Linked DNA regions of Homo sapiens: region 1 is linked to region 2. The links come from fine-mapping of genetic effects on gene expression. A gene starts in region 2. The other region holds a variant in brackets. All regions are shown on one strand. Distances are between the middles of the regions.

Region 1 (10,643 bases), 200 kb after region 2:
GAAAAATAACAATGGGTACTAGGCTTAATATCTGGGTGATGAAATGATCTGTACAGCAAACCCCCATGACACAAGTTTACCCATGTAACAAACATGCACATGTACCCCTGAACTAAAAAGTTAAAAAAATTTGCTGAGCACGGTGGCACACGCCTGTAATCCCAGCACTTTGGGAGGCCAAGGCGGGTGGATCACGAGGTCAGGAGATCGAGACCATCCTGGCTAACATGGTGAAACCCCATCTCTACTAAAAATACAAAAAATTAGCTGGGCGTGGTGGCGGGCGCTTGTAGTCCCAGCTACTTGGGAGGCTGAGGCAGGAGAATGGCGTGAACACGGGGGGTGGAGTTTGCAATGAGGGGAGATCGCGCCACTGCACTCTAGCCTGGGCGAGAGAGCGAGACTCCATTTCCAAAAAAAAAAAGGTTAAAAATTTTTAAAAAAAGAAAGTCTATAGGGCCCAGACTTACCCAACATCTTTATACTTTATTGCACTGTGGCCCTATTAGACTTTCCTGTGAGTTGGATCCTGTCCAACTTCCCAAACAGATGCTGATACTTTGTGGGTTGTGTAGTTACTGATAATTCGTCATCATCTTCTCATAACTGAAAGCTCATGGAGAAATTTTGCCATCTAGTTTTGCTATAAATGGGTTTTGTTCATTGCTCCTTGGTTTTGCTGCCCTAGATGGAGATTTTTAAAGTGCACTGTACTAAAACCACCTACCTAGAATCTTCCCCATCTTCATTCTTAAAACACTTTTCTCTCCACTTGGCTTCTGGGATAAAAGTTTTCTGATTTATCTTTTATCTTATTGGCTACTGCTACTCAGCCAACTTTGCTGTTTCTTCGTCTTTGTCTTGATCTCCAGATGTTGGTAAATCCTGTGGATTGGTCTTCAATTTTCTTATGTCCACAATTCATATTCACATGTCTAAGTAAGGTCAACCATTCCTGTGACTTTAAGACAATGCATATGTAAAGCCCATTTTTTTAATCCCCAGATTTTACCTTTTCTATCAAATTCAGACATGAATAACTGTCCACTTGTATGTCTAATAAACATTTTAAAAGTTAACATAATTAAATGGAACTCTTGACTTCACTTTCAAACCACTCCTAGCCCTGTGTTCCTCATTTCAGTTAAGTGACAGTATCATTCATCTGGTTGTTCTTGCTAAAAATGTAAAAGTCATGAGTTTTCCCTTTGTAGCATACATTTATTCCATCAACAAATCCTGTCAACTAAACCTTTAATATATATCCCAAATCTTACTACTTCTCACCACTTGTATCTTTATTTCAGTAGAGATAATAGTCATATTTCCTAGTATGGATGAAAATAGTCAAACTCTATAAAATATGTGAAGAGATTTATTCTGAGCCAAATATGAGTGACCATGGCCCATGACACAGCCCTCAGGAGGTCCTGAGAACATGTGCCCAGGATGGATGGGGTACAGCTTGCTTTTATATGTTTTAGGAAGGCATGACACATCAAATACATTTAAGAAATACATTGGTTTGGTTCAGAAAGGCAGGACAACTCAAAGCAGGGGCTTCCAGGCTATAGGTAAATTTAAACATTTTCTGTATGACAGTTGGTTGAGTTTATCTGAAGAGCTGGGATCAATAGAAAGGAAATGTCCAGGCCGGGTGTGGTGGCTCACACCTGTAATCCCAGCACTTTGGGAGGCCAAGGCAGGTGGATCACCCAAGGTCAGGAGTTCGAGACCAGCCTGGCCAACATGGTGAAACCCTGTCTCTACTAAAAATACAAAAATTAGCTGGGCATGGTGGTGGGTGCCTGTAACCCCAGCTACTTGGGAGGCTGAGGCACAAGAATCTTTTGAACCCAGGAGGCGAAAGTTGCAGTGAGCCGAGATTGCGTCATTGCACTCCTGCCTGGGTGACAGAGTGAGACTCTGTCTCAAAAAAAAGAAAGGTATGTTCAAGTTAAGATAAAGAATTGTGGAGACCAAGTTTTATTGTGCAGAGGAAGCTCTCTGATAGCAGACTTCAGAGACAGCAGGTTGTAAAATGTTTCCTATCAGACCTAAAAGGGTACCTGGCTCTTAGTTGATTATCTCCTGGATCCAGAAAGGAAGAAAGGAAAACAAAGGGGAAAGGGGATTCTCTATAGAATGTGGATTTTTCCCACAAGGGACTTTGCAGGGCAATTTCAAGGTATGGCAAGAAAATATATTTTGGGGTAAAACATTTTTATTTTCTTTCTAGTTATGCCAGAGTCAGATTGGAAAGTAAGTCGTAATATACAGGATTAAATAAAACCCATCTGATGAGAATTTATGGTTTGTGGGTCATGACTCCCCATACCCCTTAATAAGGAATTTAGGCCAGATAAAAAATCAGAGCTTAGTCTTTACTAGATATCTGCTGTATTTCTAACTGGACTTCCTTACTTCACTTTTGCCCCACTATATCTGTTTTCCATACAGCAGGCAACCAGTTCTTGTTAATACATAATAAATCCTGCACTACCACAAATTTCTAAAATCCAGTTTACTCAAAAGAAAATCCAAATTTCTTTCCATGACCTATACTTCCCTACATAATCTTACCTTTGCTTGTCTCCCTGGCCCTATTTCCTACATTTTCTCACCTCATTTATTCCACTCTAACCACATTTTTTATTCCTTAAAAAATGCCAAATTTGTTTTGTTCCAATTTCAAATGCCTGCACCTTCTTCCATCTGCTTGAAATAAACTTTCTCCAGATTTTCACATGACCTGCTCATTTACTTTATTACCAGTATCCGCCCAGGTGCAGTGGCTCATGCCTGTAATCCTAGCACTTCGGGAGGCCGAGGTGGGCAGATCACAAGGTCAGGCGTGCGGGACCAGCCTGGCCAATATGGTGAAACCCCGTCTCTACTAAAAATACAAAAATTAGCCAGGCATGATGGCACGTGCCTATAATCCCAGCTACTCAGTAGGCTGAGGCAGGAGAATCGCTTGAACCCCAGAGGCAGAGGTTGCAGTGAGCCAAGATCAAGTCACTGCACTCCACTCCGGATGACAAAGAAAGACTCCATCTCAAAAAAAAAAGAAAATTACCAGTATCCTTGGCAAGTCCATCTAAAATAGGATTCACTGCTTCCAACACTCTCTAGCCTTTTACTTTGCTTTACTTTGACTTTACTTTCATTTTACTTTGCTTTACTACAACAATATCTATCATGAAGGTTGATATCAAATGATAATTTAGCTGATACAATTTTTGTTGAGCCTCCAACTGTGAATGAGAAAATAAAGCCTAAAGTTCATAGTACAGCTAATGACCATTAGATATTTTCTCTGTGAAAGTTTGCTAATCAGCTGAATAATTTTTCTCCTATAGGAATAGCAATAATTATAGTGGCTCATATAAAATATGCTCATGTATTAACATCCATCTCTACTGTAAATATATAATGAGCTTTGTGTTAGTCTGCTTGCATTACTATAAAAGAATACCTGAGGCTGGGTAATCTATAAAGAAAAGGGGTTAAGTTGACTCATAGTTCTACAGGCTGTGCATGAAGCATAGTGCCAGCATCTGCTTCTGATGAGGGCTTCAGGAAGCTTACAATCATGGTGGAAGGCAAAGGGGCGACAGTGTGCCACATGGTGAGAGTAGGAGCAAGCGAGATGCCAGACTCTTAAACAACAAGCTCTTGTGTGAACGAACAGTGAGAACTCATTACTTCAGGAGGGATCTACCCACATGACCCAAACACCTCCAAATAATACAGGAATTATTAAGAAATAACTTTTAGGCCGCTAGAAAGGGTAAAGGTTCTCAGTGGAAATTTTCCTGTAATAAGAAGCAACCCCCAAACCATTTCTTTTCTAACAGAAAGGCAGCTTGAAAAACCAGGCCGGCAAGCTTTGATATGCAAATGCTGGCGATTAGAAACTGGGTCCACCCAACATGGCCAACAGGAAGAGTGCCACCCTCTCCTCCTCATCACTACATGTGCCAAGTGTCATGATTGCCTCCAGATAACATGGATATCATGGTGACCTGCATTTGCATATTAAAGGAGTAAGGTAGGAGTGCCAGGTTTTTCACGGGCTATGTGAATGACACGCCTGGTCAAACCAATCTCCTGGGCCCTATGCAAATTAGACACCTCCTCCTCCAGCCTCCTGCTATAACAAACTACTCTGCCACACACGGGGTTTCTCTCTGGGAGCCCCCCTCCCTCTGTCCCTGTACTGGGAAGCTTCTTCCTTCTTTCTTGCTTATTAAACTCTCCACTCCTTAAAACCACTCTACATGTGTCCATGTCGCTTTATCTAAAACGATGTTAGACCAAGGACCCTGCTGTTCTTCCATTCATCAGAGCAGTTATCATTTTGGTTGCATTGACCGGGAATTCATTCATCGGAGTGGTGACTATAGAGCGAGCCCCAACCTCAAATCTCTCCTTCAATTTCAAGGCTCTCTTCTTACTATCCTGTTGCAAAATTTTCCTTCTTTCTCTATCCACGGTCTCTTACTCTCTCTCTGTGAAAAGTGCAGGGAGTTTTACAGTTCAGTGAAACAGGTCTGCTAGGAAAGATGGCAAACGCAGCAGGCAGTAACTCAACAAGCCCGCTCTCTGTGGCTGCGCTGGTGAGCATATAGTATTTCTAAGCCAACAGCGCCACCTAGTGGAAGTAGAAATCCTCTTCAGGGGCCACATTTTTTACGGTAACACTGAACTTCCTTTTGCACCACCAGAAATCAGGCTCTAACCTACTTCTGTGAACCGGAAAGTTCTGCCTTCAGCAATTAGAAGTAATATGTCCTCGACCGGGCATGGTGGCTTACGCCTGTAATCCCAACACTTTGGGAGGCCAAAGCGGGTGGATCACGAGGTCAGGAGTTCGAGACCAGCCTGGCCAATATGGTGAAACCCCGTCTCTACTAAAAACACAAAAATTAGCTGGGCGTGGTGGTGCACACCTGCGGTCCCAGCTGCTCAGGAGGCTGAGGCTATTGAATTGCTTAAAACGGGGAAGCAGAGGTTGCAGTGAGCTGAGATTACGTCACTGCACTCCAGCCTGGGTGACAGTGAGACTCTGTCTCAAAAAGAAGTAATATGTCTGCTGCCACATTTTAGTCTTGATATTGTCCCATAAGCAGGAAAATGGCCATTCTGTTCCTACGCTCTTTTAAGACATCTAATCTGTTTCCTGTTAAAATGGTATAATTAGTAGGGAGATTTTAAGTTCAGAAGTTAACCAGAACCATTTTTCTGAGGGTAAATGGTTTGGCATGGGCCATAATAGCAGGCAGTCTAGCACATTGCCTCTGTTAAAGGAGCCTTGACCAAAAACAACACAGTCTCTCCAAAGATCAATTTTTCAGGGAGCCAGGTAGATCACATAGGCTTAGGAAGTCAAAGGGAATCACACAAGGCAGATAAGCTAAGGTTGCGTGGGTAAAGTGTGGTTAATCCCATTGAGAGGTGACAGCGTGCTAGCAGTCCTCACAGCTCTCGCTC[G/A]CTCTCGGCGCCTCCTCTGCCTGGGCTCCCACTTTGGCGGCACTTGAGGAGCCCTTCAGCCCACCGCTGCACTGTGGGAGCCCCTTTCTGGGCTGGCGAAGGCCGCAGCCCGCTCCCTCAGCTTGCAGGGAGGTGTGGAGGGAGACGCGCGAGCGGGAACCGGGGCTGCGCGCGGCGCTTGCGGGCCAGCTGGAGTTCCGGGGGGGCGTGGGCTTGGCGGCCCCGCACTCGGAGCAGCCGGCCGGCCCTGCCGGCCCGGGGCAGTGAGGGGCTTAGCACCCGGGCCAGCGGCTGCGGAGGGTGTACTGGGTCCCCCAGCAGTGCCAGCCCACCGGCGCTGCGCTCGATTTCTCACCGGGCCTTAGCTGCCTTCCCGCGGGGCAGGCCTTGGGACTGCAGCCCGCCATGCCTGAGCCTTCCCCCGCCTCCGTGGGTTCCTGTGCAGCCGGAGCCTCCCCGACGAGCGCCGCCCCCTGCTCCACGGCGCCCAGTCCCATCGACCGCCCAAGGGCTGAGGAGTGCAAGCGCATGGCGTGGGACTGCAGCGCCGGTGCGGGATCCACTGGGTGAAGCCAGCTGGGCTCCTGAGTCTGGTGAGGACGTGGAGAATTTATGTTTAGCTCAGGGATTGCAAATACACCAATGGACACTCTGTATCTAGCTCAAGGTTTGTAAACACACCAATCAGCACCCTGTGTCTAGCTCAGGGTTGTGAGCGCGCCAATCGACACTCTGTATCTAGCTGCTCTGGTGGGGCCTTGGAGAACCTTTGTGTGGATACTCTGTATCTAACTAATCTGATGGGGAGGAGGAGAACCTTTGTACCTAGCTCAGGGATTGTAAACGCACCAATCAGCGCCCTGTCAAAACAGACCACTCGCCTCTACCAATCAGCAGGATGTGGTTGGGGGGGGGCCAGATAAGAGAATAAAAGCAGGCTGCCCGAGTTGGTAGTAGTAACCCGCTCGGGTGTCTCTCTGCCTTGGTGGGGCTTTGTTCTTTCGCTCTTGGGGTCCATACTACTTTTGTGAATTACAGCACTCACCACGAAAGCTTGCGAGACCACGAGCCTACCGGGAGGAACGAACAACTCCCGACGCGCTGCCTTAAGAGCTGTAACAGTGACCGCAAAGGTCTGCAGCTTTACTCCTGAGCCCGCCAGACCATGAACCCACCAGAAAGAAAAAACTGAACACACCTGCACATCAAAAGGAACAAACTCCAGACGCGCCACCTTAAGAGCTGTAACACTCACCGTGAGGGTCTGCGGCTTCATTTTTGAAGTCAGTGAGACCAAGAACCCACCCATTCCGGACACACCATCACTTAGTTCATCCGCTCCCATGGCTTGGGGGACCATGCTTACAATCGTGGGTGGCACATTTAACAGGGTCCCAGGAACCAGGGAAGGAAAACAGGACACTCCACTGTGTTATTCTCCGTCGGGGGTCATAGGGAATCAAAGTAGATTAAAAGGACACTTTTATTGCTTTTCTTTCTAGATGGGTAACAGATTATCTTCAGTTTGTGCCCCTCTGGCGTGCACTCTGAAACACTGAAACTTTCTTAGCCTCAGGACATTAAAGAGAAGAGCAACTCATTTTATTTTGCACAAGGGCATGGTATTTTTACTGAAACTTTGCAAGCAGTGTAAGATCAACCCAGCTCTTTTAGGAATCATATCAGGCACGCTCACTGAAAATAATTCCCCAAAATTAGAAAAGCAACTTCCAGAGGAGCCATCTGAAGATCCCCCTTCTTTGGGGGCCCCTTCAAGTTCCCTTCTCGTTACAGCCCCTTAGGCCTGTAATAAAGGGAGACTTAGCCAATTTTCTCACAACCCTGATAGGTATATAAAAGCTTTCCAGGCTGGGCGCAGTGGCTCACGCCTGTAATCCCAACACTTTGGGAGGCTGAGGCGGGCAGATCACGAGGTCAAGAGATTGAGACCATCCTGGTCAACATGGTGAAACCCCGTCTCTACTAAAAATACAAAAATTAGTTGGGCGTTGTGGCATGTGCCTGTAATCTCAGCTACTTGGGAGGCTGAGGCAGGAGAATCGCTTGCACCCAGGATGTGGAGGTTGCAGTGAGCCAAGATCACGGCACTGAACTCCAGCCTAGCAATAGAGTGAGACTCCGTCTCAAAAAAAAAGCTTTCCAAAATTTAACTCAGGTATTTCACCTCAGATGGAAGGATGTTATGTTGCTCCTAAGTCAGACCCTCACTGCAGCTGAAAAGCAGGCAGCTCTGATTTCAGAGATTAGCAACATATCTCCTATAATACACCAAAAGGGAAGAAAGCAGATAAGGAAAGAGAAGAAATAGCAGAAATGCCATTCCCAATTGGGAGGAAAGCAGTTTCCCTTGACAACCCTAATTGGGACCCCAATAACTCAGGAGATGAAAAGGAAGCTCTTTTTTAAGTGTGCATTAGAGGGCCTACGGAAAACCAGGGCCAAACCTCTCAATTACTCTAAACTGTCCATGATAAACAGCCAGATGAGAATCTTGTAGCCTTTATGGAAAGGCTGAGAGAGGCACTAACAGAACACCCCTCCTTATCCCCTGATTCAGTCGAGGGACAGCTCATCCTAAAGGACAAGTTTATTAGACAGGCAGCTGCCAATATTAAAAGGAAACTACACAAGCAAGCTATAGGACCAGATAGCACCTTAGAGAACTTCCTGAAAGTGGCCACTTTGGTCTTTTGTAATAGGAACCAGGAGGAGGCCCAAAAGAAAGAGACAATGGTCAGAAGGACAGAGACTCTAGCAGCAGCTTTGCAGGCTTGCAAAGTCCAGGATCCCGGAGGTGCATCTGCTAGTTGCTATCAGTGTGGCAGGCCAGAGCATGTTAAGAAAGAATGCCCATACAGCAAGACAAAGCCACCTCAACCCTCTCCAGCCTGTGGCAGAGACAACAGGAGATGGAACTGCCCCCAGAGGTGGAGGTCACTGGGTTCAGAACCAGTCTTACTGATGATCCAGCAGAACTGGATCCCGGGGCTCAAACTCCAGCTCCAGCGGCTCAAACTGCCATTACAGCACAGGAGCTCTGAGTGATTCTGGAAATTAAAAGAAGGAAAGTAGACCTCTTTCTAAACACTCAGCCAGTCTCTCTTTTTTCTCCTCTCTAATCCAGGCCTCCCCTCTTCCCATAGCACAACCAGAAGGGGCATCTCAGGAAAAACTCTACTCCAGTATTTTTCTCAACCTTAGTTGACACGTGCTTCCAAGCCATTATCATGACAGCTCGCTAATCAGAAAAGCCTCCAAGTTAACCCTAGGAAATAATTTAACTGTTTACACCCCACATAATGTGGCAGGATTACTGTCCTCTAGGGGGAGCTCTTAGCCAACAAACCGCCAGTAAAGCAAGAAGTACATAAGGCAGGATAAGCAGTAGTCACTCTAAATAACGTCTCTCCCCAGGCACAAGCGCTCAATTAGCTGAGCTAACAGCTTTTACAAGCACACTTGGATTAAGCAAGGGAAAGGTAGCTAACATTTATACTAACTCCAAGTATGCTTTCTTGGTTCTCCATGCTCATGCTGCCATTTGAAAGAAAAGACATTTTCGGCCAGGCGGTGGCTCACGCCTGTAATCCCAACACTTTGGGAGGCCAGACGGGCGGATCACGAGGTCAGGGGATCAAGACCATCCTGGCTAACATGGTGAAACCCCGTCTCTACTAAAAATACAAAAAATTAGCCAGGCGTGGTGGCAGGCGCCTGTAGTCCCACCTACCTGGGAGGCTGAGACACGAGAATGGCGTGAACCTGGGAGGTGGAGGTTGCAGTGAGCCGAGATCGCGCCACTGCAGTCCAGCCTGGGCGACGGAGCGAGACTTCGTCTCAAAAAGAAAGAAAGAAAGAAAAGACATTTTCTTACCATTAATAGATCCCCTATAAAAATATCACCAGGAAATTAGCAGGTTATCTTCAGTTTTTCTTCCACAAGAAATAGCAGGAATGCATTGTAAGGAACATCAAAAGGGAACAAATGAGGTAGCCAAAGGAAATAGGTTAGCTGATCAGGCAGTTAAGTCAGAGGCAAGGAAGCCTCAAGCCGTTAAGGCACTTAAGCCCCTTCTAATCTAGGAAGGCTCCATAAGAAAAATTAAACCTCAGTATTTCCCTGCAGAAATAAAATAGGCCACTTCTCGAGGACGTAGTTCCCAGCCCTCAGAAAGGCTACAGTCAGAGGATGGCAAACTCCATTTGCCAGCCTCCAGCCAATGTCCTTAAAATCCTTCACCAAGCTTTTCACTTGGGAAAGGATAAAACTTATCAGTGTGCTCAGAGATTGTTTTCAGGCAGGAAACCTCTAAATTGGTTAAGCATGTAACCTCTCTAGCTCACTTCCAACAAGAATTAACGCAACTAACAGAAGTCCAACCCCAGGAAACAGAACCACCTTTATTTAACCCAGGAAATTTGGTGTTAGTGAAAACCCTCATCTCTGTCTCCTTCCCTAAGCCAAGCTGGGAAAGGCCCTACACTGTTCTTCTTTCAACACCATTGGCAGTAAAAGTTACAGGAATCAACTCCTGACTTCCACATTCAAGTCAAAGCCTGAACAGCTGAGGGATCAACCTCTGACAGCCCAGAGGCACGTCCTGAATATCAATGTGGAGAAATAGAAGATCTTAAACTGAAAATCATAAAAGATAAGTAACTGAGTGAGGGCTACTCCTACCTCATCGGGTACTTTTTATTATTTCTGCCTTTCCTCTCAAAATCTGCCACCAAATATTAAAATTCCTTTTAAGGCATATTTGCAGCGAGATTTAATTATACATGGGATTGCATTTGTAACTTTGTAGATCCCCAAAGGGAAATGTTATATCTAGGCAAGTAAAGACTTAAACGAAAATTATTTACTATGCCACTCTTGTGGGAAATGTTATAGTTACACCACTATTTGCGATGGAACTATACACCGTGGCACCCACAATGCGGAATTTTGGTTGTAAAATTCTAATTGTTATAATATTTTGCCTGATTATCTTCCTTATCTTAGGATTAATAATTGCAGGAAAGATTTAGTCAAGGTTATTTTGCTTATAGCAGGAGTGATAGTTATGGATAAGAAGCAAGCATAAGGCCGGGCGCGATGGCTCATGCCTGTAATCTCAGCACTT
Region 2 (10,643 bases):
GAAAGGGGGAATCATTAAGTACACTTGATTCAGATTCCACCTGGGATTCGACAAATTTTCTTTTTTTGTTTTTCTATTTTCTTTGGGATCTTCTCTTGTTTTCGTCTTTAAATCTCTTATTTCACCCTTTTTAACTTTAATTCCTTTGTTTCTTTTACTTCATCTTTTTTGGGCTTTTTGGACTCCTTTAGTTCTTCTTTGGCTTCAGAAATTCTTTTCTTTGTCCTTAAATCAAACTAAACTTTCCAAGGAGCTCTCCAGGTCTGGTTTGGACTTGTCTTTTAGCTTCCCGGCCTTTGCTTTTTTCTTTTTCAGATCATCTGGGCTTTTCTCCTCTCTCTGCCTTAATTTTTTCTTTTTCTTCTTTGGGGAAGTATCTTCTTTTGTCTTACTTTGCTGACCGCTATCAGAGTTCGCCTCAAATATGTCGTTATTTAAGGATAGTCTCTGAATATCCTTCCTGACTGCTTTGGCTTTGTTCTCTGCAATTTTCTTCCTAAATTCAAGAAGCACTTCTTTACAGTCCTCCAGGTGAGTCTCGGGCTCCCAGGTATCGTCATCCGATGTATAGCCTTTCCAGCGAACTTTGTAAAGAATTTCACCCCCCTCGATCTTTATGTCCAGGATCTTCTCCACCTCGAACACATCCTCTCCGTCCTCCTCACTGTCGCCAAAGGCCTCCGCTCCTCTCGCGGCTGCGTCATTATCCCCGCCCACTACTCCAACTCCTTCTTCGACTTCGGCCAACTCCTCAGTGCTGTCGGCAGCTGACACAGGGGCTGCGGTCACACTCGCTCCCTCCGCAGCCTGCTCCATCCTAGCAGCTCCGCAAACCGCCGAGGAAAACCCGCTGCGACACACACCCCAGCAGCTCCTCGCGTTCCGCGCTCCGCCCTACTCCACATCAGCGGCGTAACGGAAGCCGACCAATGGCGGGCTTGGACCCGCCGCGCCAGCGTGGCCACGTCCCGCTCAGGCTCCGCCGCCTGCTCTTGGCTCCGGGTAGCCGGCCAGGGCGGACACTTAACACTCGCGTCGGCCGCGGCCGGCCCTCCGCGCAGGCAGCCCTGGAGGCGGCCCCGCGAAGCTCAGGAGCGCCCCTGCGACGGGGAGGGCGGACTGCGCAGTGCCGCGCCCGGGCAGGGACCTGGAGCCGCCGCCGCCCACCGGCCCTGCCGCCATCCCCCCACCGCCGCACGGGAAGCGGAAGTGGGTGCGGGACCGCGGCGCGCCCAGCCCGGCCAGCTCCCGCGCCCAGCCCGGCCCTTGAATTCATCTTTTTATGGCTGCATAGTATTCCATGGTGTGTAACACATATATATTTTTAATTGTATTTAATTCTTTGATTTCTGTATCTTGTAAGTTTTTATTAACCGATTTTTCTATTTGCAAAAATACAATATCCATATTTTTTCAGTGAGACATTTTACGTTTGGAAACTATCTTTATCTTTTTTCTTTTTTTTTTTTTTTGAGATGGAGTCTTGCTCTGTCGCCCAGGCTGGAGTGTAGGGGCACGATCTCGGCTCACTACAACCTCCACTTCCTGGGTTCAAGCAATTCTTCCACTTCAGCCCCCCAAGTAGCTGGGGTTACAGGTGCACACCACCACACCCGGCTAATTTTTGTATTTTTAATAGAGATGTGGTTTCACTGTGTTGGCCAGGCTGGTCTCGAACTCCTGACCTCAGGTGATCTCCCCACCTTGGCCTCCCAAAGTGCTGAGATTACAGGCCTGAGCCACTGTGCCCGGCCGGATTTGGAAATTCTCTTTATCTGAAGGAGAAAAATGTCAACGAAAAATGTAATATGAAATGCATAAAAATAATTTGGACACCTTTATTTACAGGGTATAGCTATTGAAGGTCCAACATTATTTTTACATGTTCTATTTCCCTCAAAATATGCACTTAGGGTAGTGAGTAGGGGAAAGGTAGAATAGAGGATTGTAAGCCCAAAAGTTATCATCCATCAGAACTCACTAAAACTGCTGATGAGAAAGCAGGAATTCAGGAGCAGGATGCAAGTTACCACAGCAGAGAAAAGGTTCTGATGACAGCAGCATCTTCCAAAATCTGGAGAAACAAAATATAGCAGGGTAGAATTTCATGTCTTTCTAAGAAATGTTAGATGACCTCAATGACTTAAATCCAAAATAAAATAGAAGGAGTAAGATGAATTATTCTTCCACCTGTCAAGGATACCGCACAAGAAAGTCCTTTTCCCAGGAAAAGCCACAGGACTAGCTCCTGTTTGTGATGGAAAGGCACCAAGTGGTTTGTAACAGGGCAGATATTTTAGCATGTGATTCATTGAAAAATTGCATTCTGTGTCCAAATATATTTTGTGGCTGTTTGGGGTAATTGATTAGCATTTTGGGTTACTGAGTAATTTTTACTTCTCAACTCTTTGACCCTCTCCTCATTTTTACTGTTTTTCCTCCTAACGTTATCCCCCTACTTTGTTCATTCATTTGCTCCTTTATTGAGTATGACATATGTACCCGATCTTGTGCTTCATTATGGGAATAGAGGAATGAATAAGTGTTCTTGCCTGTATTCCACTCAGTGGCTTGTGACTGGAATGTACAAGCAAATCAACATTTGGAGGTCACTATAATAACTGCTGATTGAGCTCATGATTATTTACCAAAGCTATCCACTTTTCTTCAGGGTCACTATTCTATTATTCCTACAGAATCTTGCCACTTCCTCACTTCTCCCTGTCTTTTCAGTCATGCTCAGTTCTGCATCTAATAAAGTTTATGCTACACGTGTGGGGAAAGAATGAACTAAGATAGGCAGGAGCAATACACAAGCGAAGGAGTTGAGAATTTATTCTGAGAGTTATTTGGAGACTATAAAGAATTGAATCAGTGTAATAAATAAAATTTACATTATAGAAAGATTATTTTAAAAGCAGATGGGATGATTAATTCATAGGGGTAAATAAATGTATAAGAAATACTTTAAAATAATATTTATCATCCTGTTTACTTGAGGGGTATGTAACAGCTGTAACTGTTAGAGAACTATCTTAAATAGTATTTTCATTAGTATCTTATGGAAAAGATGAAGTCAGAGTTAAACTGAGCATGTGTAATCCCAGACAACAAAAAACAAAAACCCTAAGAGGACAGAAGGAACAGTACCCATCGGGGAAAGGCCCATGCTGCTTGGGCTACGCAAAAGCAGAGACAGAAGGCGCAACCTGCTTTGGTGGACATCTTTAGTTTTTCAAATGATGCTTTGAAACTAAAATGGATCCCGGGCACTTCTCTAAGAAGTAATCCCAAGTGAGTTTGGCAACAGTCAGTAATAACCATAGAGGAGACTTTATTATTACAATTATCATCAGTCACATCCATCATTCTTGGAAAATGTACCCAAATCAAGAGAAAACCCTCCCTATAGAACGAAACAGGGAGAAATAAGTGTGGAATGGGCAATTAGTGTCCCAATTTCCTTCTTTTCCATCTTGTCCAAAACACTTTAAGTTGGTCTTCTTTTTTCTCTTATTTCTTTTGTTCCTAATAAGAATATTTAGTTCCATCAAACCTCATGTGTAGGATTATCCTAGGAGGCCATTTCATCTTCCTAAATCCTTCCAGGAAACTCTGAGTGCCCATTTGTAAGAATGGTTAGAGCTAAAGATGAACTATAAAGAAAAAAGAATAGTAAGCTCTGACACCAGCACAATCAAGATCTGATGAACGTGAACAAATAGTGCAGTAGGAAATTCTTGAGAAGGAGAATTAAAGTATAATTGCCAGAACTTGTGACCTTCTATATATCTAATACCATCTCACCAATTCAAGACCTTCATCTTTCCCATTCCTTTTCTAATTAGATACATGGCAGACAGCATGTTGAAAGTTAAATAATATTATCTTTTAAGTAACACACATGAATTATGAAGAACTGTAATTCATTAAGATGAGCCTTGCTAGATAGAAGGCAGCCAAGCTTCTCAAACTGTAGAAACCCTTTTTCAAAAAGGAGGCTTTGAAAAATATCAGAACTTCTGCTGGTTTTCTAGAAATGTGCTGGTCTTTAGTCATAAGCAAAACAGTTACAAAATATTAAGTTGACTTGTAGTAATTGCACTGAGGAATGGCACAGAGACACAATGCCAACAGGAGTAGCACTGCATTTTCAAAAGCCTCAATCCTATTTAGGAGTTATAAGTCCCAAATACAGCAAAAACCTCCCTTCGTGATTCTTTATTTCCACGAAATGTCTATGAAGTGCAAGTGCAAAGGTTACTACTAATTTCAGATGTGCTGTGAAAGACTTCTTAGCCATGTATTCCTTTCTTAGTCCTTACTCTTTAGGGTCCATCAAAGACTTGTTCTTTGTTTTTTATCATAATGTCTTCTTATTTATTTGCTTTATTAAAATTTATAGCAGAAAGATCAAGGGCTCAGACTTAGCTGGTCCTGAATTTAAATTACACTTGAGATTCTACTACATGACCTTACATAAGTCAGTTAGTCCTTATAAGTCTTCATTTTCCATCTACCAATGGAGACAATAATATCTATAAAATAGGTTACATGTGTGAATTAAATTGAGATGACCTAAAGCATTTACTGTAGTACCTGGCACTTGATAACAATAAGTTTCTAATTTATCCCTTCTTTCTATTTCCACAACTTCATATCCTTGTGTGACTTCTAATCTCCAGTCTTTATAATACATTTTCTGTTTACTTTATTAATGTTTTCCTCCTTTCTTGGATTTCAGTTTTGCCTCCAATATTGCTGCTACTCTAAGTTCCACAAAACTTTCAATTTTTTTATATTTCTCATGTCCTGTTTTCTTTTTACCTTACTACATAATATTTATATCTGTTTGTTGTTACACATATTCTTAGTATACCCACCATCTCCCAAATGGCAGAGCAAAATAAAAGCAAAACCTTACCAATATGCCACGAGTTTTGAGGCAGCATCATTATGGGTCTATCTCTTCCTGAGTCCTGATGTAACTCCTGGGTCCTCTTATATATAATCTCAGAACTGCTCATGAGGTGAAAACAGATCTGCTATTTGGAAATGACAATACTGTAAAATTGAGTTCATAGTTTTCCAAAGGGGAAGTCATTATAAAAGCTGAGGTTGTTTTTTCTTTGCTACTTCCTTATCACGTTAGGATATGGAAAACAAAGGAAGTTAAATAATATGCCTGGAAAGTCTCACAGAATAAAGGGAACTGTAAATTGCCACTCTAAATTTTCAAAAAGACTCATGTTTCACATTTAAAAATTTTTGTTCCATAAATGTGATCTTGTCAGCACAGTTTTATAGATATTTATCTAAAAGATAAAATATATCATCAGGTTTGTTTACTTTAGCATACATATTTCAACCAGTTATGCTAAAAGGATCAGAAGAGGTTACATTGCTGAAAACTGGCTAGTCTACGAAAGCTTTGCTGATGAAACATGAGCACAGATAAACATATTTGAAAAAATTTCATGTCTATAAAAATGTTTAACAAAATGGAGTCCTTTAAAATTAGTTTTTTATTGTTAATGATTATGTAAAAGAAAATAAAGCTTAGTCATCAAATGAGTTTGGAAAACATTCATTTAAATGATTTCAACCATTAGGTAGAAAACCATGAGTGGCTTCTGAGCTCATAGTGATTGTTCTGTGTTCGGATAGGCCTGTATGTCCTGCCCTGCTTCTTTGGGAAAATTGCTTTTTCCCTTCCTTGATATGTTAAGAATGGTAGATCACATCTTTTCACACGCCCACGTCTCCCCGATTACAGTGACAAGTTCAAGGAAAAGCCAATGACCCAAGTGAGCCCATCAGAGTGTTTGCCAGGATTTTTCGTCCTATACTTCCATGTCGAGTAGGCCTATTAGTAAAAAAGAAGCTAATATATACAGAAATTAAAATGAGATATAAAATATCTAAATACTTTAGATAAATAAGTCCTTATAAATCTCCATTGATAAATTCAAGAACTTTATTTTTTCTTGTCCCTTTTCAACTTAGATACCTGACAAGGCTTTATATAACAGAGGTTAAATAAAATTCTGCTGCAATTAATGCCAAATGTATTTTGAAGTCCAATTAAACATCGGAGCTTGCTAGATATGAGCGAGATGTGCCTCTGAAATGATAAAGTGCCATTCTCAAAATATAGTCTCTTTCTTACTTCTCAGAACTGAGGTAGGTGCCCAAAGTCAGAAGAAATCAGGAGGAAAACAGGGAGAATTTTTTCTTGGAAAGCTTGAGATGAAATGTCTTTGGGGAAATGTAATTCACTAACTAGGATAAGTCACATGATGGAAGAATGGAAGACACAAAAAGAGGATGCTGAAACTTGTTTTAGTATATTATTTCTCAGCCATGCTGAGAAAATTTCCTGAAATTTTTAAAATACAGTATGACCGGAAACGCTTTCATGCTAACAGAATCCATAGCAAACTAACTGCTGATAAAATGATCTCACAGAAGTGGGAACTGAAAATAGAAAACAATGAAAACCTGATTATTGCTATTCTTTGATAGAATAAATGTCTCCACAATATCTCTGCTACTGTTTTGAGTTTCTCCCATTTCTAGACACCCAAGTTCTCTCACTCTCAAATATTTCGTAGCAGGTTCTAATCTAAATGAGTCCCTTTCTTGCCTTTATGATAAAAAAGCATAAGGGATGTGATAACTATCTCTTTGGGGAAATAGCTGGATATTCTGCTTCAAGATCTCACACAGGGCTATAATTACATTGTAAACTGGGGCTGTGGTCTCACCTGGAAGCTTGACTGAGGAAGGATCTGCTCCCATGGCCACTGCTATTCCATGGACTGAATTGTGTCTCCTCAAAATTTATAGATTAAAGCAATAACCCCCCAGTGTGACTATGTTTCAAGACAGGGCCTTTAAGGAGGTAATTAAGGTTACTTGAGATTATAAGGGTGAGGCCCTAATCCAATAGGATTGATGTCCTTACAAGAAGGGACACCAGAGCTTGTTCTCTCTCTTTCCACAAATGTGCAGAAGAAAGGCCACGTGAGGACACAGACAAAAAGTGGATGTCTAAAAGCCAGCAAGAGAGCCCTCACTAGAAACCAAATTTCCTGGTACCTTGATAATGAACTTCTAGCCTCCAGAAATGTGAAAAATAAATTTCTGTCATTTTTAAGTGACTCAGTCTACAGTACTTTGCTATGTTGATCCAAGCAGACAAATGCAGATGTTGGTACTGAGAAGGGAGATGCTTCTGTAACAGATAACCTAAAAATGTGGAAGTGCCTTTGGAACTGGGTAGTGAATAGAGGCTAGAAAAGTTTTCAGGTGCATGCCTGAGAAAGCCTAAATTGCCTTGAAGGGACTGTTAATAAAAACATGAATGCTAAAAGCAATTCTGATGAAGTCTTCCATGGAAGTGAGGAACATGTTATTGGAAACTGCAGAAAAGATGATTTTTGTTTTAAAGTGGCAAAGAACTTGTCTGAATTGTGTCTTAGTGTTTTGTAAAGTGTAGGACTTGTGAATTACAACTTTGGATTTTTAAAAGGGAAGATATATAAGCAAAGTGTTAAAAGCACAGCCTAGTTTTTCCTAATTGCTCATGGTAAAAGGCTAGAGGGGAAAGATAAATTGACAGCATTGTTAAGCAAAAAACAAAAACAAAAGCAACCCAGAAACTGAAGATTTGGAAAAATCTCGGCCTATTTATATAGCAAAAAAATGATAAAATGTGTTCTGGAGAGAACATCAATGGTGTGGCGCCTCAATCACTCCATAGGGAAATTAACCATGACTTTTTTCATCCACCTTAGCGGGAGCCTTGAATAGAGATGGGATTATATCAGCAGAGACCCTGCCAGTTTGGACCAAAGAGAATAGAAATGGGTTGAAATAAATCATGGAAAGCTTTCTGACTTCTGAGATTCTGTAGGATGAAATAATAGAGATATTCAGCTGTGAACATGCTTTATCCTTCAAGGAAAGGGATAAATGACCTTGAAGGTGATTCAGAGGTCATCAGTGCTGTAACTCCCACTATAGGCCCAGAGGAAAGGCTGTTTTGTCCTCAGTTTCAGAGGATGGGACCATCTCCTCAGTTTCAGTAGACCAGGCTGCCTCCATCCGTGCCTGAGGAGTGGAGCAGCCACAAAAAGTTTTAACAGTCTGCTACTTACAGCTGTGGTGGTGACAATGCCACCCCAGTGGGCCTGGAGGGCAGAGGATTCAGCCAAAGATAATTATTGTTGAATCTTAAGATCTAATGGAATTTGCCACTTCTCCTTTTTGGAATGAGAATGTCTGTCTTATGCCTGTCCCACTACTGTTTTTTGGATGCACATAACTTGTCTGGCTTCACAGGTTCACAACTGGAAAGGAATTTTGCCTCAGGATGAATCATAACTTGAGTCTCACCCATACCTGATTTAAATGAGACTTTGCACTTTAGACTTTAGAATTGATGCTGGAAAGGGTTAAGACTTTATGTGTTGTTGGAATGGGATTAATATATTTATCATGTGAGAATAACATGAATTTGGGAGTGGAGGGTAGAATGTTACGGAATGAATTTTGTCCCCCACAAAATCCACAGGTTGAAGCCCTAATGTGACTATATTTGAAGATAGGGCCTTTAGGGAAGTAATTAACATTACATAAAGTTATAAGAGTGAAGTCCTAATCCAGGATTACTATCCTTATAAGAACAAAACAAGACACAGAGAACTCTCTTCACACATGCAAAGAGGAAAGGCCATGTGAGGACACAGAGAGAAGGTGGCTGTTTGCAAGCCAGGAAGAGAGCCCTCACCAGAAACCAAATTTGCTGGCACCTTGAACATGGACTTCTAGCCTCCATAACTGTGAGAGCATAAATTTCTGTAGCTGAAGCCACCCAGTCTGTGGTATTTTGTTATGACAGCCAGAGCAGACTAATACAGTCCCTAATATGGTTGCTGGCAGAATGTTGTACTGAGGGGCTCAGTTTCTTGCCAAATTGGACTGAGGCTGCCCTGAGTTTCTTACCAGGAGGACATCACCCATAGAGCAGAAAGCGTGTAAAATCTTGCAGAGAGAGAGAGAGAGAGAGAAAGAGAGAGAAATATGGAGTCACAGTCCTTTCTAACCTAATCTTGAAATTGATATCTCAGCACTTTTGCCATATTCTATTCATTAGAAGCAAGTTACTAGATCCAGCCCACACACAAGGGGAGCAGATTACACTGGACATGAATACATGAAGGCAGCCATAATTTGGAACAATTTTGGAAGAAATCTACAAGAAGTGAACAAAAAATAGACCAGAGAAACCAAAAGCTATAGGACAATATGCAGCAGACTTATAATTGGAATGCTAGGAGAAAAATGATGACAGAATGGGGCAGAAGAAAGACTCAGAGAAATAATGATTAGGAATAATGACAGACACCAAACCACAGTACAATGTACTTAAAGAACACCAAGTAAGAAAAGAATAACACACACACTCACATACTCTCTACCTAGGTATAACATATTTAAACCTGCACAGGCATGAGAGAGAGAGAGAGAGAGATACAGAGAGAGAGAGAAAGAGACAGAGAGACAGACAGAGAGAGAGGCAGCCAAAGGAAAAAAAGCACATTACGTATATATAGAGAGAGAGAGAAAAAAAAATTACAGACGACCTCTTGTCAAAATTGTGCATGCATGAAGACAATGAAGATGATATCTACTAAGTGCTAAAAGAAAGAAAATAACCTGTCAATCAAGAATACTCTGCATAGTGAGTATATATTTCAAAACTGAAGGAGAAATTTTAAAAACCCTTAAACAAAGCTTGAGAGACGTCATTACTAGCAGACCTATATTAGGCTTAGTGATTTACTTCCAAAGCATGGAGTATGAAAGATGGTAAATAACTTTACAGCGGAGAAATCTAGCAAATACCACTTCAAACAAATGATCAACAGTCACATCCCCAGAGATAACATGTGTATATCATGTATGCCCTGATATTGTGTGATGAGTAGGGCACTGCTGTGGTGTTCTTTCCCAAACCCCATTACTCCAATCTATTCATGAGTAAAACATGAGGCAAACCCAAGGTGAGGGACATGCTAAAAAACACCTGACCAGTACTCTTCAAAACTGTCAAGGTCATAAGAAATAAGAAAAGACTGAGAAACTGGCATAGACCAGAGGACACTATAAAGACAGGACAACAAAATGCAATGTGATATCCTGGATTGGATCCTGAAACAGAAAAGAGACATTAATTTTAAAAAATCTGGAGTTTATTTAACAGTAATTGGGTTTGTTTTCCAGGGCTGCCATAGCACAGTACCACTAACTGGGTGGCTTAAAACAATAGCAATTTATTTTTTTTACAGTTCTGGAAATGACAAGAATGAAATCAAGATGTCAGCAGGCCATGTCCCTACAAAGATTCTAAGGGAGGATCCTTCCTTGCCTCTTCCTAGCTTTTGCTTGTTGCTGGCAATCATAAGCATTCCTTGGTTTGAAGATTCATCACTCCAATCTCTGCCTCCACCATCATATAGCATCCTTCCTGTGTGTTTCTAAGTCCAAATTTTCCTCTTTTCGTAAGGACACATTGTTGGATTAGGGCTTACTCTAATCCAGTATAGCCTCATTTTAACTGATTACATTTGCAGAGA

What was found.
Region 1: its variant is fine-mapped to the expression of CD163L1 in testis (GTEx, PIP 0.99).

The regions. Positions count from the first base shown.
Region 1 is chr12:7,634,204-7,644,846 of GRCh38, forward strand. No RefSeq gene overlaps it. Among named protein-coding and RNA genes, the nearest start is that of APOBEC1, 26 kb to the right of the region's middle. RefSeq lists an enhancer at 3,643-4,177 and silencers at 4,619-4,748, 5,830-5,929. The variant G/A (reference allele first, on the strand shown) is at 5,497.
Region 2 is chr12:7,439,173-7,449,815 of GRCh38, forward strand. It overlaps CD163L1 (CD163 molecule like 1), which reads right to left and starts at 4,981. Exons shown (of 20, transcript NM_174941.6): 1 at 4,925-4,981; 2 at 1,982-2,074. The coding sequence starts at 4,955. It also overlaps the pseudogene LOC100419928.